Linked DNA regions of Homo sapiens. The protein of the gene in region 7 purifies or fractionates together with the protein of the main gene of each other region. This does not show direct contact. Each region holds a gene or a part of one and is shown on either strand. Other genes may lie near its edges.

The links.
Region 1: the proteins of PREP (region 7) and TARS1 fractionate together in Homo sapiens (co-fractionation; one large-scale study listed by BioGRID). This does not show direct contact.
Region 2: the proteins of PREP (region 7) and RCC2 fractionate together in Homo sapiens (co-fractionation; one large-scale study listed by BioGRID). This does not show direct contact.
Region 3: the proteins of PREP (region 7) and QDPR fractionate together in Homo sapiens (co-fractionation; one large-scale study listed by BioGRID). This does not show direct contact.
Region 4: the proteins of PREP (region 7) and PPP1R8 fractionate together in Homo sapiens (co-fractionation; one large-scale study listed by BioGRID). This does not show direct contact.
Region 5: the proteins of PREP (region 7) and MCCC2 fractionate together in Homo sapiens (co-fractionation; one large-scale study listed by BioGRID). This does not show direct contact.
Region 6: the proteins of PREP (region 7) and GLO1 fractionate together in Homo sapiens (co-fractionation; one large-scale study listed by BioGRID). This does not show direct contact.

Annotation. Positions count from the first base shown.
Region 1 is NC_000005.10:33,447,465-33,450,964, forward strand, and holds part of TARS1 (threonine--tRNA ligase 1, cytoplasmic), read left to right. Parts: intron 1-1,076; coding exon 1,077-1,267; intron 1,268-3,500. UniProt on the Homo sapiens protein: Catalyzes the attachment of threonine to tRNA(Thr) in a two-step reaction: threonine is first activated by ATP to form Thr-AMP and then transferred to the acceptor end of tRNA(Thr).
Region 2 is NC_000001.11:17,422,678-17,426,177, reverse strand, and holds part of RCC2 (protein RCC2), read left to right. Parts: intron 1-493; coding exon 494-637; intron 638-3,341; coding exon 3,342-3,473; intron 3,474-3,500. UniProt on the Homo sapiens protein: Multifunctional protein that may affect its functions by regulating the activity of small GTPases, such as RAC1 and RALA. Required for normal progress through the cell cycle, both during interphase and during mitosis.
Region 3 is NC_000004.12:17,498,591-17,502,090, reverse strand, and holds part of QDPR (dihydropteridine reductase), read left to right. Parts: intron 1-231; coding exon 232-372; intron 373-3,500. UniProt on the Homo sapiens protein: Catalyzes the conversion of quinonoid dihydrobiopterin into tetrahydrobiopterin.
Region 4 is NC_000001.11:27,837,282-27,840,781, forward strand, and holds part of PPP1R8 (nuclear inhibitor of protein phosphatase 1), read left to right. Parts: intron 1-1,417; coding exon 1,418-1,571; intron 1,572-3,500. UniProt on the Homo sapiens protein: Inhibitor subunit of the major nuclear protein phosphatase-1 (PP-1). It has RNA-binding activity but does not cleave RNA and may target PP-1 to RNA-associated substrates. May also be involved in pre-mRNA splicing.
Region 5 is NC_000005.10:71,593,840-71,597,339, forward strand, and holds part of MCCC2 (methylcrotonoyl-CoA carboxylase beta chain, mitochondrial isoform 1 precursor), read left to right. Parts: intron 1-2,440; coding exon 2,441-2,525; intron 2,526-3,500. UniProt on the Homo sapiens protein: Carboxyltransferase subunit of the 3-methylcrotonyl-CoA carboxylase, an enzyme that catalyzes the conversion of 3-methylcrotonyl-CoA to 3-methylglutaconyl-CoA, a critical step for leucine and isovaleric acid catabolism.
Region 6 is NC_000006.12:38,679,146-38,682,645, reverse strand, and holds part of GLO1 (lactoylglutathione lyase), read left to right. Parts: intron 1-544; coding exon 545-634; intron 635-3,500. UniProt on the Homo sapiens protein: Catalyzes the conversion of hemimercaptal, formed from methylglyoxal and glutathione, to S-lactoylglutathione. Involved in the regulation of TNF-induced transcriptional activity of NF-kappa-B. Required for normal osteoclastogenesis.
Region 7 is NC_000006.12:105,281,083-105,284,582, reverse strand, and holds part of PREP (prolyl endopeptidase), read left to right. Parts: intron 1-2,000; coding exon 2,001-2,132; intron 2,133-2,680; coding exon 2,681-2,837; exon of another isoform or gene 2,838-3,500. UniProt on the Homo sapiens protein: Cleaves peptide bonds on the C-terminal side of prolyl residues within peptides that are up to approximately 30 amino acids long.

The DNA.
Region 1 (3,500 bases), on a different chromosome or scaffold from region 7:
TCGAACTCCTGGCCTCAAGTGATCCATCTGCCTTGGCCTCCCTAAGTGCTGGGATTACAGGAATGAACCACCATGCCCTGCCCCAGTCAGTTTCTTAAGGATTAGATATTCCCTTGTACTCCTTTCAAATTGTGGTATGTTGATATATATGGAGACATATGTATGGAGACGTTGGTAGCATTATCAACATTGAATAAATGTTAAAATCTGTATTGCAGTAAGTCATTTTATATCTGATAGATTGAAATTCATTTGAAGATAGAAAGTCATGGCAAAATTAAGCAATCTCCTCTTCACTTTTGTATGAAGTGTTAATGTTCATGTAATTTGAAGATGATGAATGCTGTAGATGTTAGTTTGACTGTTTTGTTACCACAGATTCACTGCCTTTTTGAAATGTTCCATAGATTATAGAGTGACAGTAGAAGAAGTCAGCTCTCTGATTGCTGTCTCTTTTTCTTTCTTTGCCAAACCTCTAGAAACCTAAGTGGGTGTTTTATATAGAATATTTTTGTTAATTTTATCTGCTATAGAAAGTAGTAGTGTGTTGTTTTATATAGTTGCTAATTACATACTCCAAGCTGATCATGGCATCTTTGAATTCAGTAAATACTTTCCTTGAAGGGGAGACCTTAAGTCAAAGAAATTTGTGATTGGTTGTGAGTGGACATATAGGCTGACCCGCTGCACAGACCATCACCTGGACATGAATGAAACAAAATAGAAAAGCCAGTTTATTGTTTTTATTTCCAGTATTGTTTATAGCTCTATTTGTAAAATAATTTAGTTAGAAAAGATCCTAAGAAGACATCTTAAAAGAGAAAAGACCACTTGCTGTAAATAGTAGCAAAATGGTAATTGTCGATTCAGCATAAGAATAGGGCATTTAATTCCTTCTTTTACCTTCATTTAGAACCAAATTGAGGTAATGCCGGGTGATTTTGGCAGTGTTTATTTACCACATTGAATCAATAGTCCTGGGTTTCTGTATTGTTTTTATTATTTCTTTCCCATTTCTAAATAGGAAAGCAATATTTACTGATCATTTATTTCCTGATTTGTTTGTTGTCTTGCAGTTGAATCCTTGGCCTGAATATATTTACACACGTCTTGAGATGTATAATATACTAAAAGCAGAACATGATTCCATTCTGGCAGAAAAGGCAGAAAAAGATAGCAAGCCAATTAAAGTCACTTTGCCTGATGGTAAACAGGTTGATGCGGAATCTTGGAAAACTACACCATATCAAATTGCCTGTGGAATTAGGTATAAGCTACACCCATCATGACCTTCCATAGTTTGTGGTCTAACTAAACTTCCTTTTATTATCTTGCCATGTTTTATTCTTATAATATTTTTATGTTACCATTCAGTGTTTTTAATCTGTTTAATTTTGCCTACTTGAGATTTTTTAAAAATCAAAATGATACAGAGCTTTGTAGTCAAAATTCAAAGTTAATTTCTGAAAGAGTTTACTTTGGTCTTATCTTTTGGGGCATTGTATATTTTTAGTCTTACTATGATTATAAATGTTACAAAACCGACTAGACAGTGTTTACCTATTTCGACTTAAATGTCTTGGTTTTGAAGTTAAAAATGAAGCTACATAATCTCACATGGAAAGGTTAAGAAACTTCATATAACACATGAAAAAAATGTACTATTTTTATAAATTCAATGAAAGACTATTCCTAGTCTTAAAACTTTTATTGGGGTGGGAAGAAGTTATTTCAATTAACTGAGAATTAGATGCATATTTTGTAATAGGGGAGAGGCTTTCTTAATCTGATATGATTGGGATCAATAATTGGTCAGTTTATCAAAATAAGAGTTGGTAAAACATATATATGTGTATATATATACGCGTATATATACACGTGTATATATATATATCTTAAACTGGGTATTGGGAAACTCTAGTCATAATCTGTTTGTGTATGTCCTGAAAGCGAAAAATAAAAATGATTCTTTTTTTCTTTCTTTTTTTTTTTTTTTTTTTTTTTTTGAGACAGAGTCTTGCTCTGTTGCCCAGGAGGCTAGAGTGCAGTGGCGCGATCTTGGCTCACTGCAAGCTCCACCTCCCAGGTTCACGCCATTCTCCTGCCTCAGCCTCCCGAGTAGCTGGGACTACAGGTGCCCGCCACCACGCCCGGCTAATTTTTTGTATTTTTAGTAGAGACGGGGTTTCACCGTGCTAGCCAGGATGGTCTCGATCTCCTGACCTTGTGATCCGTCCGCCTCGGCCTCCCAAAGTGCTGGGATTACAGGCGTGACCCACCGCGCCCAGCCAAAAATGATTCTTAAATTTTTAAATAGTTGGAAAAAATAAAACAACTAAGAATATACAACAGAGACCATGTTTGGCCTGCAAAGTGTAAAATATTTGTGTGGCCTTTTACAGAAAAAGCTTGCCAATCTTGGTCTTAAACACTTCAACTTAAAATATGTGAATATGTATGTATTCACTAACTTTATATACATACATAAAACAGTGAATATATATATGTATGGCAAGGTTTGGGGGATAGCGAGTGCTAATTAGAGTTCTTACATTATCTTAACACATACGAGAAGTAGTCTGAGCACAGAATCCTTGCAGATTTTCATGTAGTTGTAGAGTTACACCTAACTTGACAGTGTTTTTGTGTGTGTGACTTGGATTTATCAAGCCTTCTCAAACATTCAACTTGGTTTTCATAGAATCCATAATTCCCTTATTGTGTTATTTTATAATTATATATTTTTGAAGTTTATTTATAAGTGTTATGTATTGAATTGAACCATTTGGAATCACCATATGAATTGTCATGTGGTTGATTATCATCAATTTTGTATTGTTGAACCAAACACGTAAAAGAACAAGCACAAAAACAGTTTGGGGAACCAACGTGGCTGATTCTTGGTAAGCGTATTATACAACTAGTAGAAGCAGAACCAGTTAGGCCTATGAGCCATGAGCATCTACTGTACCACAGACATTAGTTAGTACTTTTTACAAAGTGAATGGAGTGTTTCCATTCATTTGACAAGTGCTTCTACCTACAAGTTCTTCTACCTTACTCCAAAGGAAGTAAAAAGTTGTAATACCATGCAAGTTTCTATGTGAGAGCATAGAGAACTGGATAGACCTTTACGTATCAGTTCAACCTTTCATTTTAGAGATAATTTTGAAGGTCAGGTTGATTAATAGATTCCTCTGTTGTCACACAATGAGATTGTAGCCGTGTCATTAAAATTTAGGCTTCTGTTAGTTTGGGAACTTTTTCCTCTACCTTCTACAATGTTGATCTAGATTACATTGTAATTTATCAAGTCTTCAGTTGAAAAATATTCTTCAAGAACTATAAAATTCTAAGTTGAATTACATAGCTGGGCGTGTTGGCTCACAGCTGTAATCCCAGCACTTTGAGAGGCCAAGGCAGGCAGATCACCTGAGGTCAGGAGTTCAAGACCAGCCTGGCCAACATGGCGAAACCCTGTCTCTACTAAAAATACAAAA
Region 2 (3,500 bases), on a different chromosome or scaffold from region 7:
GGGAAAGGAGGGGCAGGCGGCAGGGAGTGAGGAGGAGGGGTAGGTTACTGTCAGGGTGAGCGGGGTTTCCTGGGTCAGCCTCTTCCTCAGCTGACGGCTGTGGAAAGCCAGCACTCCTGCCTCCTGGACAGACCTCGCACCAGGTCCCGGGCACTTGCGGGTGGGCGTGCTCAATGGCAGAACACGTGGGGCTGAGCCCTGTGAGAGGTGGGACCCAGAGAGGGGGCTGGGGCCGAATGGGTGTAAAGGTGGCAGGTGACGCCAGGCCTGTGCCAGCTTCTGGGTATTTTGATTTTTGGGCCTTCAGAGGCATCGCAGAGATTCGAAGTGAAAACCCGATCCTTGTGCAGCCTCCCAACAGCCAAGGCAGGGTGGCACCCGAGGAACACCTGTCCCTGGTACCCTCGGGAAGTGGCTGCTTGGTGGCCAGTGACATTTTGGAGGTCACCCCACCACCCCAGGTGTCTGATCTGCATTCTCATTCTCTCTGCAGCTGCTTACCGCAATCTCGGTCAGAATTTGTGGGGGCCCCACAGATATGGGTGCCTGGCGGGGGTCCGGGTGCGGACAGTGGTCTCGGGCTCGTGTGCTGCACACAGCCTCCTCATCACCACGGAAGGGAAGCTGTGGAGCTGGGGTGAGTACCGTGCGGGTGCTGGGCACTGGGGACCACTGTCACCAGCTGTCCCCACACAGCACGTTCTTCTGTTTGCCTGGAAAAGAGACTCGCGTCTTATAAGGCTGGGCTCCTTCGTTCACAGCCCATGTCTTTTTTCCTAATTCCCAGCTCGTCTCTTGTCTACACGCTACATGCAGATCCCCTTCCCCCCTGACATTTTTTGCCCATACGCAGCCCCTACTTCTTTGATTCCTTGTGTTTACACAAGGAACATTTTCCTGAATCTTCTGCCCGAAGCTTGATCTTTTCTGATACTGAGGTGTGTGAGTGTGTTAGGCAGGCTGTCCTTCCAGCAGACAGTTTCCTTCCTCTTTGAGGCACGATATGACATGAGACCTCTGTTGCTGCCACTTGAAATGCCACTGGCTTTTCTACCTCCCGCCTCATGTCATAGGATGCTGCGTCCCTGCCGCCATGGCCCTCGTGTCTGAGGTCTGCCCAAGTCTGGTCTGCAGGCTTGGCAGCTCACTGTCCGTGTTGTCTGCTTCTTAGGATATTTCCCCAGATACTTCAGTTTGCTTTTTTGGAGTTGTTCGGCTTTCCCTTCTGTTTTTCCTCACCTGGGCACTCGGGATGGGTTCCAGTTCTTCTGTTAGCCTCTGTCCACGGCACTGTCCTCTGCAGCCGGCCGGCCCATTCCTGCCCGTGTCCTCTTCCAGATCATTCCAATCATAGGGTATGGGCTAAGGCTCATTTTATCCCCAGCCCTTTTGGTGACTCCCGGCCTCTGCCTCCAGCGGGGCATATTGGCGTTTGTCCCCACCCTTTGTCGCTGGTCCTCTGGCTAGCTTTTAGTCCATATGACTGCATTTTTATTTTGGGCTGTTTGAACCGTTTTTTGTGATTTCATGAGCTGCTGTACCAAAGTCCAAATATATTAACATCTGTTGTCTTCCCTGCACATGGCTAATTTTGTAATTCTGTTGAAAAAAGCTAAAGTGTGTCTGGCCCAAATTTATACTTTATAGTCTCTTGATGACATGCTGACATTGCCACAGTTTTTGTTTTCTCCCGGTTGGCATAGATGTGTGTCCCTTCCCCCAGAGCACCCCTCCTACTTTGTGTTCCAACACTGAACACAGCCTTTTATGTCAGTGTTCCAAACTTAAAATACCTCAGTTCTGATCTCTCGCTGAGCTTCACTTGCGTGGTGGCTCTGAAAGCGCCCTCAGTTCTGACCCTGTGGGCAGGGACAATGTATGTCCCGCCATCAAGACGTGTGATCCCCGAGCAGACAGTGCAGTTGGTGAGGACAGGGTTGGAAGGTGTCACAGGCCCACTGCTCGCCACTCTAGAAGGCAGGGGGCGGCGTCTGGTGTGAGTAGAGTACCACGGGAGGGTGGCTGACGCATTGCTCATGTGGGGTCTCCATCTGTGGCCCGCTCACCCTGTCCTGCCGCATCTCAGTCCACTGAGACTTGCACTTGTTGCTCTGTATTCACATGCCTTTCACATGAACTTGGGCAGCTCCCATTGGAAGCTGGTGTATCTGCCTCTCCTGCTCGAGTGCCAGTGCTGGCCCTTCAGCCCGCCGTTCTTTAATTAGAGCGAGTCAGAGGCTGGTTTCCCTTCGTCGCAATTCCTTCTGTAGTCAGAGGCTGCTCCTGCAAGCCTTCTCCAGGACAGCTGGAACTCATCTTAATGGCTCTGCTGTCTGCCTTTATCACAACCTAAGGGTGAAAAGTTCATTGCTGGAGAAGGTTGCAAAACCCCCTAGAATTGCCCTGACTTCTCACCACTGTAAGATCTCCGTCAGTTTCCCCACGTCAGGTTACATGTGTGGTTTTTCTCTTATCGGGAGGGATCCGAGAGTGGCCGGTTGAATTTTTGTTTTGGAACTTGGTAGTTTGTGTTGAAACCTAGATGCGGTGTAGGGGCTCCCAGCCCTCCTTTTGGCCCACCCAACTTCCACGTCTGTTTGGAGTTGAATTTGGTTCTGCAGAGGACTTGGGGGTAGGGGTTGGCCCTCAGGCCTGCCTTCCGCTGGAATTCACAGATACAGGGCCTTGGTCGCACCTGCAGCAGTCCTGGAGGTGGGGCTGGGCGTGTTGTGTTGAGGGTGGATCTGTGCTTTGTCACCAGGGTTCCTGTGGCTGAGAGTCCTTGAGGGGCGATCCCTAGGGGTGGGATTGGCACTGTTATGTGAGCACCATTTACAGGGTAGAAAAAGGAAGAGAAATATTGGGCAGACACCAAATGGTCCTCAGTGGATGCCCAGAGCACCAAAGTGATTAAACTCTGGTGAGCCAGGTGTCAAAATGGGGTGCTGTCTTAAAATACATCTCAGAGGGTAGGGACGGGGTGGTTGTCTTGCAGGCACTCTAAGTGGGAACGGCGTGTTTCTGCGAGCATGCCCGCCTGTGCATGGTGTCCCTACCACACTGAGCCTCTCATTTCCCTTTGTAGCAGAGACGTGGGAGGTGTGCACGGGTGGTCCCGCTGCTGCCCCAGGGAAGGAGGTCCGGGGAGCTGCAGCAGGCGCCATTCCAGCGGGCAGAGGGCCGGGGCGTTCTTTGCTCTGGATCTTGGCTGTTGGGAATTTGGAGGGTACCTTCCAGAGACAGATGGGCATCATTTGAGAGTGTGTTTGTACTCGCCTTCTCCTGGTGGTGCCGCCTGGACCACCCTCTCTCTTTTCTACTTTCTCTCATGTGATCTGCAGGTCGAAATGAGAAGGGGCAGCTGGGACATGGTGACACCAAGAGAGTAGAAGCCCCTAGACTCATCGAGGGTCTTAGCCACGAAGTGATTGTGTCTGCAGCATGTGGGCGGAACCACACCTTGGCCTTGACGGGTAAGGAGGTGGCTGCTGGTGTCTCCT
Region 3 (3,500 bases), on a different chromosome or scaffold from region 7:
ACATTTTGCCAGTGTATAGGTAAGGAAGCTGAACCTCAGGCAATCCCATGGCCTGGATTTGAACCTGTGTCTCTGACCACTGAGCCCTGTGCTGTTTGTGTTAGACCTTGCTGTAGATAGGGACCTGGGGACCAGGAGGGAGGGCCTCCCTGAGTGTGGGGCTGCATGAGTTGAGCTCACCTTTTGGTTTCTTTCCTGGGAATGCTGAGCCCACATGTTTTTTTCACTCAGCTCTCTTTAAGAACTGTGACCTGATGTGGAAGCAGAGCATATGGACATCGACCATCTCCAGCCATCTGGCTACCAAGCATCTCAAGGAAGGAGGCCTCCTGACCTTGGCTGGCGCAAAGGCTGCCCTGGATGGGACTCCTGGTAAGCCTTTATTTCCCTATCTGTGGAGTGGGGTTGCTTACCTTGCTTGCTGGGGCTGCTGGGCACTTTCATGGGATGAGGACTGTTAAAGCCTTTACCCTCTAAGCTGCTTAACAGATAGATGGATTTTGTCTTCTTTTGGGCCTGAATCATTTTAGGGAGAAGAGTTCTGATCTTTTGTTTGCCTGTCCTTATGTTTATGGTGGTGGTAAGGAACGCTATGATCTGGTAACCCCCATTTAGTTTATTTATCTGTGATCTACACTGGAATGAATGGTTTAGTGGATATTAATTAATTAATAAACATGGATTATTATTATCACATTGAATCCATGTGTTCCAGGGAAGCAGCTTAGCAGCTGGAAATAGCATAAGTTTAAAATGAGAGAGGTTCATTTGGCCAGCACAGTGGCTCACACGTGTAATCCCAGCACTTTTGGGAGGCTGAAGCAGGAGGATTGCTTGAGCCCAGGAGTTCAAGACCAGCCTGGGCAACATAGTGAGACCCTATCTCTACATTAGAAAACAAAAAGAGAGTGAGAGGGTTGGGGGTGGATTCTTTATCCTAGATGTGTGACCCTGAACCAGTTCTTCAGTCTCTGACCAGATGTCTACTGTAGTTTCCTTAATTGTAAAATAGTGACAGTGACATCTAACTTGAAGAGTACTGTAAAACTGTAGAGGTGTAGCTATGTAGAAAGTGCACATGGTAGGCACCCATAAATGGCAAGTCTTACTGTTATTCACAATAAATGGTAGGTCTTATAGTCACTCTTTTCATTTCACATATATTCTCACTTTAATCTCATCAATATTATCTTTTTCAGTTTACAGGTTAGGAAACTAAAACTTGGAGAGTTAAGTAACTTGTCTGGGTTTGTGCAGGAAGTAAGTTGCAGACTTACTTGAACCAAAACCCTAATCATCTACCAACTGTGTATTTTTTCCATTATGTCATTTCTTTTGCATTTTTTATGACCTGTATTAGTTTGTTTGGGTAGCCACAGACTGGGTGGCCTAAACAACAGAGATTTATTTTCTCATAACTCTGGAGGCTAAAAGTCTGGAGATCAAGGTATCTGCAGGGCTGGCTCCTTCTGAATCCTCTTTTTTTATAGATGGCTGCCTTCTCCTTTTGTCTGCATGTGGTCTTCCCTCTGTGTGTCTGTCCTCGTTTCCTCCTCTTCTAAGGAAACCAGGCATATTGGACTAGGGCCCATCTCAATGGGCTCATTTTAACTTTGTTGCCTCTTTAAAGATCTTCGAATACAGTCCCATTCTGAGGTACTGGGAATTAGGACTTCAATATACGAATGTTGGGGGGATCTATTTCAGCCCATAACACTCCCTGTGGGATAGGGCTAAAGGAATTTAAGCAGGGGTAGAAAGGGGCAGCATAGGGAGGCAGAAAGTGTCTACCTCAACTACCTAAGTTGAACTCTTCTTTTAAAAAAATGGGAGCTTTTGGCCGGGTGCAGTGGCTCACACCTGTAATCCCAGAACTTTGGGAGGCCAAGGCGGGTGGATCATGAGGTGGAGATTGAGACCACCCTGGCTAACACGATGAAACCCTGTCCCTACTAAAAATACAAAAAATTAGCCAGGCGTGATGGTGGCTGAAGCAGGAGAATGGCGTGAACCCAGGAGGTGGAGCTTGCAGTGAGCCGAGATCGCGCCACTGCACTCCAGCCTGGGCAACAGAGCAAGACTCCCTCTCAAAAGAAAAAAAAAAAAGGTGGGGGGAGCTCTTTTTGACTCTCTTGTAAGTGGTAGAGACCTTGGGACCCTTCTCAGTTGTTTATTTTTTTAGAGACAGGGTCTCACCCAGGCTGGAATGTAGTGGTATGATCTAGCTCACTGTAGCTTGGAACTCCTGGGCTCAAGCAATCCTTTGCCTCGGCCTCCTGAGTAGCTGGGACTGCAGACACACACTGCCATGCCTGGCTAATTTTTGTATTTTTTGTAGAAGCAGGGTCTCGCTATGATGCCCAGGCTGGTCTCAAATTCCTGGCTTCAGGTGATGCTCCTGCCTTGGCCTCCCGGAGCACTGAGACTACTGGCATGAGCCACTACGCCAGGCCCCTTCTCAATTTTAATGTAACTCACTGAACTGTGAGGCTGTGACTACTAGCAATACCTTCCCTCTCATTTTCTTCTTCCATTTCTTAGAGCATGTGATGTTACAAGTCCATGGCTATAGCAATCATTAAAGCTGTGTAAATGTTAGCTGTCTGGTTGGTTGAGATCTGATTTTTATTTAAGATGACACGGAACAGAGGCAGTAGAAAGTAAACAGAGAAATGAGTCTTAGCTTGACATTTTAAAAAACAAAACCCTAGGACCAAAAGACTGATTTTTCTAAATGACAGAAGAGTCTCCTACTTTCCTTTGGTTTGCAGGTATCCTTTGATTACATTTTGGGTAGTGGTTAAGACTGCAGGCTCTGGAACTGTGCACGTTGGACTTCTCTTAAGGCTCTGCCACTTACTGTGACACGTTCGGCAAGTTACTTCGCCTTTCTGAGTCTGCGTTTTGTCATCTGTAAAATAAGATAAAATAGTGTCTCCTTTATATATATGGTGGTTGTACCTTGTAAATGTCTCAATGGATCTAAATGGATGAGAAAGGTATTACAGAGAGTCAATAGTAAGTGTGAGCCATTATTATTATTTACTCCAGGCTTATTTCTGCCCAGCTGTTCTGCCTCAGATGTTAATGAATTTGTTCATCTTTAACCTCTTAAGTTAGATTTTGTTAAGCTATTAATAATTTGAGTCATGAGATCTTTTAAGTATGCTGCAGACCTCAGAAAAATCTGGGGAAATAGATCTACAATTTGAAAGTAAATGATGAATCAGGCTTAGTAGTCCCTCAAACTCAAGAAGATTTGTTTGCACATCAGAAGTTTTTCACTTGGAAGGATACTGAGAAAACCTCACCCTCCTATTTCCAAGTTTGTATTTCTAGACTGTCTTCTGTAGGACAAACAGTATTAAAATGGTGTTCACTTTTGTTTACCATTAAAGGATCTGTGCTGTGATTGGAAATCAGTTTTGGGGGACCACACTGATCATTCAGTAATTTGGAAGTGTTGACCTTCTTAGTGAAATGTCTTTTTTTTCATATCT
Region 4 (3,500 bases), on a different chromosome or scaffold from region 7:
TTAGCTGGGCGTGGTGGCACACGCCTGTAGTCCCAGCTACTCGGGAGGCTGAGGCAGGAGAATGGTGTGAACCCGGGAGGCAGAGCTTGTAGTGAGCCGAGATCACGCCACTGCACTCCAGCCTGGGTGACAGAGACTCGTCTCAAAAAAAAAAAAGAGTTGTTACTGTCTTGAGGGCAGGCCACTTATATCTAATAGAATTAAGAAAAGTTGGGCCGGGCGCAGCGGTTGGCTCATGCTTGTAATCCCAGCACTTTGGGAGGCTGAGGAGGGCAGATCACGAGGTCAGGAGAACGAAACCATCCTGGCTAACACGGTGAAACCCCTACTAAAAATACAAAAAATTAGCTGGGCGTGGTGGCGGGCGCCTGTAATCCCAGCTATTTGGGAGGCTGAGACAGGAGAATCTCTTGAACCCGGGAGGCGGAGGTTGCAGTGAGCCGAGATCGCACCACTGCACTCCAGACTGGGCGACAGAGCGAGACTTAGTCTCAAAAAAAAAAAAAAGAAGTTGGCCAGCCATGGTGGCTCACACCTGTAATCCCAGCACTTTAGGAGGCTGAGGTGGGCAGATCATGAGGTCAGGAGTTCAAGACCAACCTGGCCAGTATGATGAAACCCTGTCTTTACTAAAAAATACAAAAAGTAGGCCAGGCTCGGTGGCTCACGCCTGTAATCCCAGCACTTTGGGAGGCCGAGATGGGCGGATCATAAGGTCGGGAGTTCGAGACCAGCCTGGCCAACATGGTAAAACCCCGTCTCTACTAAAGATACAAAAAATTAGCCGGGCATGGTGGCGCGTGCCTGTAATCCCAGCTACTTGGGAGGCTGAGGCAGGAGAATTGCTTGAACGCAGGAGTTGGAGGTTGCAGTGAGCCAAGATTGCACCATTGCACTCCAACCTGGGTGACAGGGTGGGACTCCATCTCAAAAAAAAAAAAAAAAAAAATTAGCTGAACGTGGTGGTGCACGCCTGTAGTCCCAGCTCCTTGGGAGGCTGAGGCAGGAGAATTGTTTGAACCCAGGAGGCAGAGGTTACAGTGAGCCAAGATCATGCAACTGTACTCCAGCCTGGGCAACAGAGTGAGACTCCATCTCAGAAACAAAAAAGAGAAAGAAAAGTTATTTTCATACCAACACTAGACAAACACTACATTGAGGAGATGAATTACCATCCATTCTCCAAAAAATGTTATTTTAGTAAATTATTCTGAGTACTTTATGTTGAAGAATAATGGGAGATATTTTTTTCTCCTTGGAAAGGATTTATTTTTCTTTTTTTGATGCAAGGAGATGGAGTTTTTACTCAATCTAATGGAAAGGAATTTTATCTACTCAAGATTCTCTATTTGGGAGAGTTTTTGGTAAATGCTGTTGAAACAAGATTTAAGTAATATTTAATTTAATATTTATTTAGAAACTGATTATTGATGAGAAGAAGTATTACTTATTTGGGAGAAACCCTGATTTGTGTGACTTTACCATTGACCACCAGTCTTGCTCTCGGGTCCATGCTGCACTTGTCTACCACAAGCATCTGAAGAGAGTTTTCCTGATAGATCTCAACAGTAGTAAGTAACTCCCTCCCAATTCACATGTTACCTTTAGGCAATATGAAAATACTCTTTGGGTTCTTTAGTTTGGAAATTACGTTTTATGGAAAAAGTTAATGTTTGGTTTTTAAATCCACCCTTCTCTATTTCTGTGATTTTTCTATTTTCCTGAGATAATTGCTAACTGACTGTGGAGAGAAGAGGGGTTTGGGGAGCACTGTCCTGGAGGAATCAATAAGCAAACATAAGCTGGATGTGGGGGCTCACATCTGTAGCTACTCAGGAAGCTGAGGCGGGAGGATCACTTGAGCCCAGGAGTTCAAGACTGCAGTGAGCTATGATCACACCACTGCACTCCAGTCCGGGTGACAGAACAAGACCCCATCTCTTAAAAACAAACAACCAAAAAAGAGCTGGGTGCAGTGGCTCACTCCTGTAATCCCAGCACTTTGGGAGGCCGAGGTGGGCGAATCATTTGAGGCCAGGAGTTTGAGACCAGCCTGGCCAATATGGTGAAACCTCGCCTCTACCAAAAATACAAAAATTAGCTGGGTGTGGCGGCGGGTGCCTGTAATTCCAGCTTCTTGGGAGGCTGAGGCAGGAGAACCGCTTGAACCCAGGAGTGGAAGGATTCAGTGAGCTGAGATGGTGCCACTGCACTCTAGCCTGGGCAACACAGCAAGATTCTGTCTCAAAAAAATAAAGAAAAGGAAAAAGGCACCCAGGAACTAGGGACCATGTGTGTTCAAGTGTTTATAGGACCATAATAAATTGTGATTCTGTTTCAGCAGAAGCCATGATTAGCTCCATTGATGTAATAGAGCAGCAACATAGGGCATTTTAAGAATGATTGTCTTGAGGAAAATTTCATTATTCTGGTTCTTTATCCCATCTCTGTTTTGCTTTGACTGTGAATAATACCAGTTTTAATTCCATAAGCAAGGCCAGGCATGGTGACTCACACCTGTAATCCCAGCACTTTGGGAGGCCGATGTCAGTGAATCTCTCAAGCCCAGGAGTTCAAGACCAGCATGAGCAATGTAATGAGACCCGCGTCTCTACAAAAAAATACAAAAAGTAGCCCTGTATTGTGGAGTGCGCTATGGTCTCAGCTGCTTGGGAGGCTTAAGTGGGAGGATCGTTTGAGCCCAGGAGGTGGAGGTTGCAGCGAGCCATTATCGCATGACTGTACTCCAGTCTGGGTGACGAAGCAAGCCCTACCTCAAAAAAATAAAAATAAAATACTCCATAAGTATTAATTAATTGAAGTATCCATAAGCATACACCAATTAATAAGAGTTTAAACTTCGCCTAAGATAATCCACAGAAATGCAATTGAGATTTAACTGCATGGGGCCCTGAAGTTTGTTCATTTTGCCCGTGTGTGAATACAGTGTAAAATGTAAAGGGTCCTGCTTCCTGGGCATATCATGTTGGACTCCACCACTCTCCTACTACCATACGCAGAAACATACACTCACACATCACCCTAATCTGCTTATATAAGGGTCTTGGAGAGCTTTGTCTCGCAAATACTTATCTTTTCTCTCCCATTTTATAACATGCAGAATGCCAACAGGGGAAAATATTCAGAATCTATAGTAGGATTTTGGCTTGCTTTGGCATTGATATTGCACCTGTTTCAGCCAAGCTCTTTCTTGTCCTGGGGAAAACCTAAGCATAACTGCCACCAGGCCAGCAATTTCTATATTCTTTTGACTTGGAGCTGGAGAGGGAAAACTACAGTGATGTCCAGCTCCTGCTTTGGGAGGCGTGGCTTCTGCTGGGTTGGAGCCATTCTTATTTGACCCAGAATGGAGCCAAGCCTGTATGGCAGCAGAGAACGGTCAGTGGTATTTGTTATCTGGGGGAACAACAGGTCTGAGGATATAAGAAACCCACCGAGGAGATTCAAGGCTCAGTGAGGGAGTTTCCTTCTCACTGTAA
Region 5 (3,500 bases), on a different chromosome or scaffold from region 7:
TACATTTAGGTTAGAGTAGTTTAAATACTGGATCTCAGGAGTATAAAAATAGTGAAGAAGACTGGATTTGGAAAGTATGGTCTAGAATTGCTTATTTACTAGTTTATTTAGAGACAGGGTCTCCTCACTCTGTTGCTCGGGCTGGACTCGAAGTCGGGAGCTCAAGTGATCTTCTTGCCTCAGCCTCCCAAGTAGCTGAGACTGTACCTGTGCCCCTGTACGCAGCTATGGAATTCATACTTTTGAAGCCATTTTAGATCAAGGTGTTGTCTCCAGAAAAAGAATTCAAACTCTTGCTGAAATGAAAGTGTTTTGTTAGGGGTGATAACTCAATTGTTATGCCCATTTTGAGAGTTTGATTTGGTGAACTCACTGTCCCCCTTAGACATTAAGATGGTGGGTTTTGGGGCCAGGCACAGTGGCTCACGCCTGTAATCCCAGCACTTTGGGAGGCCGAGGTGGGCGGATCACATGAAGTCAGGAGTTCGAGACCAGACTGAGCAACATGGTGAAACCCTGTCTCTACTAAAAATACAAAATTAGCTGGGTGTGGTGGCGCATGCTTGTAATCCCACCTACTCGGGAGGCTGAGGCAGGAGAATTGTTTGAACCTGGGAGGCGGAGGTTGCAGTGAGCCAAGATGGTGCCATTGCACTCTAGCCTGGGTAACAGAGCGAAATTCCGTCTCAAAAAAAAAAAAAAAAGAGGTGGGTTTGACTCAATGGAGGGTTGAGGAGTCCTGTGGCATCAGGTGCCTGCTGGGGATGGTGGATGCTGAGGAACCGTGGTGCAGGCTGGTGGCCACAGGAGGGTAGAGGACTGAGCCGGACTCCCTGGGGAAGGAGGTAGGGAGAAGGGGGAAAGGACAAACTTGGCTGTCACAGCTTTGCCAAGAATTAAATGTCAGGGGAGCTTAATTATGTGCTCTGTGAGCCTGCATCAAGGATAACCCTCTTTCTGGTTCTTCCTAATAAAACCAGAATTCACCAGCTGCTCCAAATTGTAAGGCCCCACTCTAGACAGAATTGCTAAAGAGTGATGTTGTCTTAAGTCTCTCTCTTTTTTTTTTTTTTTACTGAGACGGAGTCTTGCTCTGTCACTCAGGCTGGGGTGTAGTGGCGCGATCTCAGTTCACTACAACCTTGGCCCCCCGGGTTCAAGCGATTCTCCCGCCTCAGCCTCCCGAATAGCTGGGACTACAGGCATGCACCACCACACCCAGCTAATTTTTCATATTTTTAGTAGAGATGGGGTTTCACCATGTTGTCCAGGCTGGTCTCAAACTCCTGGCCTCAAGTGATCCACCCACCTCAGCCTCCCAAAGTGCTGGGATTACAGGCATGACCCACCTGTCACTTTGGGAGGTCAAGGCAGGAGAATTGCATGAAGCCAGGTGTTTGAAACCAGCCTGGGCAACAGAGTGAGACCTCATCACAAAAATTTAGCTGGAGTGGTGGCACATGCCTGTAGTCCCAGCTGCTGGGAAGCCTGAGGTGAGAGGATCACTTGAATTTAGGAGTTCAAGGCTGTAGTGAGCCATGCTGGCACCACTGCACTCCAGCCTGGGTGACAGAGTAAGATCTTGTCTCAAAAAAAAAAAAAAAAAAGGTCCTACTTGGAAGATCGTTTGAGATTATTTTCTTGCCTAAATAAACAAAGAAATAGCTTTCTGAAATAGCTGAACATTTCATTAGACAAAGACTATATTAAGATGAAATTCTTGGACACCAATAAAAATAAACTAATGTTTTAATTATTAAAGGTACAATTTGATACTTCTGTTCTTGCTCCATTACCTTGGTTTGCCGAGAGTGGGTTATAGATATTCCCAAGAATACTCCAGTGGGCTCTTCAGTTATAATTTTCTTTGTCTGTCATGATGTGAGCAATGTTGAGAAGCACTGAAGACAATCTCTGAGTCAAGGAAGGGGACTTTTAAATTGCTAAAGTGTTCAACTCACCCAGTTGCAAGCCTAAAAAGTTACGGATCACTAATGTCATCTTTAGGTAAATTTACTGCACTTATCATGGAAGTAATTTCTAAAATTTTATTTTTACCTGGTACAAATGAAGATAGGAATTTTCCAGATCTATCATAGCATGTATTTAATAAATGTGGTGGAGATGAGGCATTATTTGCAATATGTGAGCTGCAGAGAAAATACTCTGTAATTTATGTAACTACTAGTGAATTCAGAACATAGACTCTAGGATATACTCTAAAATCAGGGATAGATTGATTTTTTTTTAATACCAGTTTTTACATTTACTTCAGAAAATTGGCAACTTGTAAGTTGAGTGAATGATTATTAGCCTTTTCTCAGAGGATATGTTGAACTTTTAAAAAGTGCTATATTTTGGATTAAGTATTATGTTTTTCTGGCATTGAGACCTTTTTATCGTGTCAATCTAATCTAATCTAATCACATTTCTATCATAGGAGGTGGTGAGAAAGCCCGAGCACTTCACATATCAAGAGGAAAACTATTGCCCAGAGAAAGAATTGACAATCTCATAGACCCAGGGTGCGTACATAGCCAAGTACTGACTCAGAGTGTTCTCTGTTCCATAGTACTTTATTAGACAGTCTTGTAAATCAGTTATTTTGAATTCTAGTTCTCATCGTAAGATTCAGGAACATGTGTTTATTGAGAGCCTACTATGTGTCAAGCACTATGTGTTGACATGTTTATTGAGAGCCTACTATTGGTCAGGTACTAGTGATATATCAGTGACCAAAACAGACACAGATCTTTGCTCTACTAGAGTTTACATCATAGCAAAGGGAGACAGAAAGCAACAGTAAAGACTGTAACTTCTGGCTGGGTGTGGTGGCTCACTCCTGTAATCCCAGCACTTTGGGAGGCCGAGGTGGGCGGATCATGAAGTCAGGAGATTGAGACCATCTGGCTAACATGGTGAAAACCCGTCTCTACTAAAAATACAAAAAATTAGCTGGGCATGGTGGCATGTGCTTGTAGTCCCAGCTACTCGGGAGGCTGAGGCAGGAGAGTCGCTCGAACCCCAGAGGCAGAGGTTGCAGTGAGACGAGATTGTGCCACTGCACTCCAGCCTGGGTGACAGAGCGAGACTCTGTCTCAAAAAAAAAAAAGATTGTAAATTCTGTAGTGTGTTAGTAAGTGACAAATGTCATGAGAAAAAGAAAAGGTGGCCCAGGGTAAAGGAGAGGAAGATATAGGGCAAGTTGCAGTTTTAAGAGGTGGTGCCAAGGTAGGCCGCATTGAGAAGGTGATGTCTGAGCAAAGATTTAAAGGAGGAGAGAGAGAGAGAGAGCCTTGTAACTCTCTGGGGAAAGAGTGTTTCAGGCAGAGGGAATGGCCAGTGCAAAGGCCCTGAGGTGGGAGTGTGCCAGGTAATGCTGGTATGCTCAAGGGGCAGCCAGGAGGCTGGGGTGGTTGTGGTGGAGGGAGTGAGGGGAGAGGAGTAGGAGATGGGTCAGATCCTGTATGGCCTTGTGGGTTATCATAAAGGTTTTGGTT
Region 6 (3,500 bases), about 67 Mb from region 7:
GAGTTGTTTAATTTCAGAGTCTCGATCTAAAATTACACTTACCATCTCACCATGATTTACTTTTAAGTCTCAGAATTAATTTCCAGTAGACTTTTTTTTTTAAAAAAGCTGTAGTTAATACTAATCCCAGTTTCTGCTAGCACATACACTTCTGCCTTGATCTCCAGTCTCTCAATCAAGATGACAGTATTGCAGGCTTCAGCTGGCTGCTATAGTCAATGCCAACCACAAACCTATTAAGTATTAGTAAATGATTACTGTTTTTTGGTGTCGATTATTCTTAACTGATTAGACTGTATATGAGCTGATATTGATTAATTTTAAATAATTTATAATTCAAGGCAACTAATTAACTACTTATACCCAGCCCATTAGATCTATATTTGTTCTTTAATGTATTATAGATTTTGAACCTACCTAAGTCTGTTCCCAAGTGCCTTATGTTTTGAAATAAACAAGTTTTGGAATCTACTTGTGGTACTTGGACACCCTGTTATAATTATTTCTTCCTTCTCTCTGCTTTTTTCGGGGGGTATCACGTAAGGTCATATTGGAATTGCTGTTCCTGATGTATACAGTGCTTGTAAAAGGTTTGAAGAACTGGGAGTCAAATTTGTGAAGAAACCTGATGATGGTGAGTCTACTACTTACTGTGTTCAGGCCTGTCTTTAGTTGATATTTACTAACCACCTACAGAGGCCACTGTTGTAGTAAAACCCTTTTGGCTACAAGTAACAGAAGTCTCCACTTCAACCAGAGTTTTAAAAAAGAGAAATGATTGGAAGAATATCTGGGTATTTTAGGGAACTGAAAGACAGCAACTAGGGTGGCTTTCCAAGGCACTAGACACAGGACCTGGACAGCCATCAAAACCCTACGCTTCCTCTCCCACTGCCCGACCCCACCACTTTCTTTCATTGGCCACCAGCTTTCACTATTTCAGTGTATATCTTTCCGCCCAAAAATAAGTTCCTTAAAGTCCATTTTATCTGATGCTCATATAATGACACCAGCTCTCTTTAGTTTATAATCACATGGTATTTCTTTTTCATCTTTTATAACCTTTGTATGTCCTTAAGTTTTAGGTAGGTTTTTTGAAATAGCCTACGTATGGATTTTGCTGGGTTTACATGTATTGTTATTATTTTACTTAGATCTCTTTCTGAACTATTTCAAATTAAAATTGAAATATTAAATATTTCAGAGTCTCAATCTAAACATTTGAAATATTTCACTGTTTAATTTCAATCCTTTTTTAAAAAAATTAAAATACTTAATATCCAGTGCTGGGCGTGGTGGCTCACACCTGTCATCCCAACACTTTGGGAGGCCAAGGCGGGCGGATCACGAGGTCAGGAGATCCAGACCATCTGGGCTAACATGGTGAAACCCTGTCTCTACCAAAAATAGAAAAAATTAGCCAGGCATGGTGGTGGGCGCCTATAGTCCGCCTACTCAGGAGGCTGAGGCAGGAGAATTGCTTGAACCTGGGAGGTGGAGGTTGCAGTGAGCCAAGATCGCACCACTGCACTCCAGCCTGGGCGACAGAGTGAGACTCCGTCACAAAAATATATATATATTTAATATCCAAATCTTCTCCCCAATAAGAAAGGAATTTGCTTCACTCTGTCCTCATTGTGTCACTATTACCTAGAGTGGGATAGTATTGATTTTATTTTTTAAAGATAATAATAAATATATCACGGTGTTTGATCACTTTTTCTTCATATATCTCTTGTAGTGTCTCCTTTGAGACAGGATCTCACTCTCATCCAGGCTGGGGTGCTGCAATGGCACTGTCATAGCTCACTATAGCCTTGAAACTCCTGGGCTCAAACAATCCTCTGCCTCAGCCTCCTCCTAAGTAGCTAGGACCACAGGCACATGCCACCACACCCAGCTAATTGTTTTATTTTTTTGTAGAGATGAGTTCCTGCTATGTTGCCCAGGTTTGTCTCAAACTCCTGAGCTCAAGCGATTCTTTCACCTTGGCCTCCCAAAGCACTGGGATTACAGGCGTGAGCCACTATGCCCAGCCTTTTTAGCATCTTTTGGATTTTTCTGTTCTTTTATTTAAATACCTCAACCAAAATGGTCTTTAAAGGGGTTTTGTTTTTGTTTTTTGAGACGGAGTTTCGCTCTTGTTGCCCAGGTTGGAGTGCAATGGCACGGTCTTGGCTCACCGCAACCTCTGCCTCCTGGGTTCAAGTGATTCTCTTGCCTCAGCCTCCCGAGTAGCTGGGATTACAGGCATGCACCACCGTGCCTGGCTAATTTTGTATTTTTAGTAGAGACGGGGTTTCTCCATGTTGGTCAGGCTGGTCTCAAAATCCCAACCTCAGGTGATCCGCCTGCCTCAGCCTCCCAAAGTGCTGGGATTACAGCTATGAGCCACCGCACCCAGCCCTTTAAAGGGTTTTTAAGGCAAAACTTTTGAGATTCTGTGTAACTGAGGATGATGCCTTTATGTCTGAAGGACAGTTTTATGGAAAAGCCTAGGTTTAATTTCCTTCAGTCTTGAAAATACTCTTCTATTTTCTTTTTGCATATGATGTTGCTGTTGAAAAATCTGTCAATTCATGTTCCTTTGTATATTCTTCTGTTTTATTCTAGAAGCTTTTTATATTATTTCTTTGTCACTGCCTGCATTCTGGGAGATTTCCTCAAACTGGAATACCAATTAGCTAATTTTCTCCCAAATGTATCTGTTCTGATATTTAATTCATCTATTTTGTTCTTAAACACCTGTTATAATTTTGATCTCTAATTTTCGCTTAGTTTGCTTAATATGTTCTTGTTCTTTTTTTCATATTGGTAATATTTCATATTGTTTATTACTTTTTTTTTTTTTTGAGACAGAGTCTTGCTCTGTTGCCCAGGCTAGAGTGCAGTGGTGTGATCATAGCTCACTGCAACCTCAAACTCCTGGGATCAAACAATAATCCACCTCAGCCTCCTGAGTAGCTGGGACTACAGGCAAATGCCACCATGTATGGCTAATTTTTTATTTTTTGTAGAGACAGGGTCTTACTATGTATCTCAGGCTGGTCTCAAACTCCTGGCCTCAAGTGATCCTTCTGCCTCAGCCTCCCAAAGTATTGGGATTACAGATGTGAACCACCACACCCGGCCGGTCATTACTTTTACATGTCTAAATAGTCCTTGGGTCTGGGCATGGTGGCTCATGCCTGTAATTGCAGCACTTTGGGAGGCCGAGGCAGAGGATTGGGAGGTTCGGGAGGATCACTTGAGGCCAGCAGTTCAAGGCTGCAGTGAGCTATGATTGTGCCATTGCATTCCAGCCTGGGTGACATAGGAAGACCTTGTTTCTACAAAAAGGTTTTTTTTTAAATTATCTGGGCATGGTGGCACATGCCTGTAGTCTGTATGCCTAGCTACTCGGGAGGCTGAGGTGGGAGGATTGCTTGGGCCCAGGAGTTGGAGGCTGCAGTGAGCTATGATCCACTGTACTTCATTTCAGTATAAACGACAGAGCAAGA
Region 7 (3,500 bases):
TACCAGGACCCCAGTGCTTGGGGCTGGTCAGCAGCTCCAGGTGAGAGGGGTCTCCTCAGCATCAGAGACCACCCTTAAGATATCTGTACCTCTCTTCTGTTTCCCATGCCATCCCAAACCAGAGGCCTGAGGCTCTGGATTTTTTTTGCATCAAATCAAATCAGCGAACATGAGGGTAAACCTGTTGTAAAGAGATTTCCATTAAGTACCTGTTAGGTACCATATGCAGGAAAGGCTTAGAAATGACCCCCGGGCATCCAGCATGCACCCCAGGGGCTGACAGCAGACTCCTCAAGTGCACCTTAGTGAAAGTGAGTGCCCCTGGCCGGCCATCTGGTCCATCGTTGCCAGTTATCATCCCCAGAAACTACTGATTGTGACTGTCTTTGAAACTGCAAAGAATTCATTGCATAATTTTGAGCTGATATTAGAGTTTACACTAAAATCATACTGTGAAACTGATATTAAAAGATGAGTGATAAGAGGATAAAATTTCTGTATACCATATGTTTGATCCCAAATATGTATGCTAATTCTGAACCCCTTGACTCACCTGATTTCCTATTTAAATTGTATGTAGTTTATGCACCATACCCCCTACTCATGGTCCCCTGATCCTGGGATCCTCTCCTGAAATAACTGGATTATTCTCCAGAAAACCCCTCTGGTCATCAGATGTCCACCATGCTCTGAGAGGGAAGAGTAATTTGGTCCTAGTCTGCTCTCTCATTTTTTATTAGTTAGAACCAAGTTATTTTCCAGTCTTGGGATTAGGCAGGTTCAAGATTGACTAAGGCTAACAGTAGACTATGTTTAGACTGATTTATAAACTTCCTCAAAATTTAGGCCATGATGAAAGGACCAGAAATAGACCTTTTCCAGTTATAGCCTAGGATATGATACACTGGTAAATCTAAATTCCATTCTGTTAATTGACTTTAAAATTTAATGCTCTTTTTAAAATGTAGTCATATACCCAAAATATTGTTATTCCTAGTAACTAAGTAATCCTAGCTGTTCTAAATTCACTGGTAATTTCTTACTGAAATCTTAATAACATTTGTTTTGATATGAAAAACATTTCAGTAGGACTGCTTTATCTTTAATTAAATTTCAGCAGAAGTGGTTAATCTCAAGTATCTAATTAGATCTGTGTCTGCTCTTTGTTCATTTCAAAGGCCGTTATTTCAGACATCTGTTCCTTTGAGGACATGCTTTTGACTTTTGGCCTTTACTTATAGATATTTCATGGCCCTGTAAATGTTTCTCCAAGTAATTTGTTTGGTTTAATACACTGGAACGATTTGCAGATGATAAAGCCCAGATTCTCTGGGGAAACGTTGAAGATCTTTCATTCTGGAATTGAGAAAACATAATGTGATGCTCTGCCGCAACGCTACCTCACCACCCAATTCCTTTTGTTCTTTCCATTAATAACCGAGGGCAAGACTGGGGAATTTCTTTCTCCCCATCACCGACCATGTCAGACTCCTGCAGAGGTGGGGTGGGAAGCGTGCCTCTGCAGAGCGCTTCCACCTCCGTCTTCGCGGGGAGGGGAGACACGAGCACTCCCACAGCCAGCTCCGGCTCGGGTGCTGGGTGCAACCTAGAGGACTAAACACTGCTGCAGGTCTTGCTTTATATTTGTAAGTTCAGCTTCCCAAAATACAGGTTCCTTGTGATGCCATGCTTCTATCCTTTCATTATCATACATCTCTCATAACCGACCATCTGTTCCCTTTGGGGCATTTCCCGTTTAAGTTCTAGAGGCTTTTAGAAAAATACAGATCCACCATATGGATTAGCATTGTGGTATTGATGATATATTTCCACAGTGCATAACAGAACTTAAATTGAGGCTTTTTTTTAAATGCAGTGTTAACCCATGGTTTTTAAGTTAATCAGTATTTGAAACCGTGCTCTATCATTTGAATTCCCATTAGATTAAACTTATTTTTATGTTTTGTTAATTAACTATCTTCCACTTTGGCACACTGTAGGTGGTATCTTGGCCAACAAACAAAACTGCTTTGATGACTTTCAGTGTGCTGCTGAGTATCTGATCAAGGAAGGTTACACATCTCCCAAGAGGCTGACTATTAATGGAGGTTCAAATGGAGGCCTCTTAGTGGGTGAGTACTGGATTTTATTCATTGCACTTACTAGTTAGCCCTCTTGGGGTTTTCAGATACACCATCTGTAGGCAGCTCTTGACTTAACTTTGTGGATAGGACCACAAAGTGGTATAAGGAGAGCAAAACCCATTTGTACCATTTGTATTTGGGTATCTGATAAATGACATACGAAGAGACCCTATTTATTTTGCCTTGGGCAGGTCCTGAGATCTTGAACAAGTCCCTTAATCTCCCTCATCACTGTGAAAGCAAGTGGGGATGGGAGGAGGGGATACAGGGTTTCCAGAAAGTCCTCAAGCTTTTCAAGATTCACTTTGGGGAGTAAAGCTCCATTACTGATGAGAATCCCCACCCCCTCTGACAGATCTCAGAGTGGGTGGGGAGCTTTGGGGCTATTGGGCAGGTGATTTCTGATGGTTTCCTCTTGTGCTCTGGATAAATGCAACCAGGGCTCTGGAAGCATGTAAGTAAGTATTGCCTTGCCTTGTTTATGTAGATGTTTAATGATAGACTGCCTCCCTTTTCTTTCTACGTTGGGCTTTTAGCTGCTTGTGCAAATCAGAGACCTGACCTCTTTGGTTGTGTTATTGCCCAAGTTGGAGTAATGGACATGCTGAAGTTTCATAAATATACCATCGGCCATGCTTGGACCACTGATTATGGGTGCTCGGACAGCAAACAACACTTTGAATGGCTTGTCAAGTAAGGTTTTATTGACATATATATGTTGTTAGTGGTTTGATATAAAGTTGAACACAGTCACAGCAGGATTAGTGCTTGAGCTTTGTCACTGTCAGGGTCTTGCATTTGCATATAATCTGCTGGAGAGGAGATGGGACTACCTACTTGTCTTTCTTGATTTAATATGGTCTTGAACAAAAGCAACAAACTACAAAAAATGTGGTAGGGCAGAATTCTACAGATGGCCTCCCAAGATTCCTACCCTGGTTATTCAAACACTTACCTAGATACTGCTTGCTGTCAGGGAGCAGGATATTCATCTGCTGCTCTTTGGATTATCTCTTGAGGGGTCCCAAATCACATAAACCCTTAAAGGCTGAGCACATTCTCTGGCTGGAGTCAGGGATGCAGCAGAAAGGGAGGTCAGAGAAATTGGAAGCTTGTAAAGGATTCAGCCTGCCATTGCTGGTTTTGACAATGGAGGAAGGGGGACCTCTAGAACCTGAGAGCAACCCCCAACCAATAGCCATCAAGGAAACAGGACCTAAGTCCCACAGCCGCACAAAACTAAATTCTGCCAACATCCCGAGACTGCAAGTAGGTTTTTTCCAGAGTTTCCCCGTAAGAGTCCAACCAGCCAACACCTTGACTTTGACCTTCTTTGACCTTGGAAGACCCAGAGCA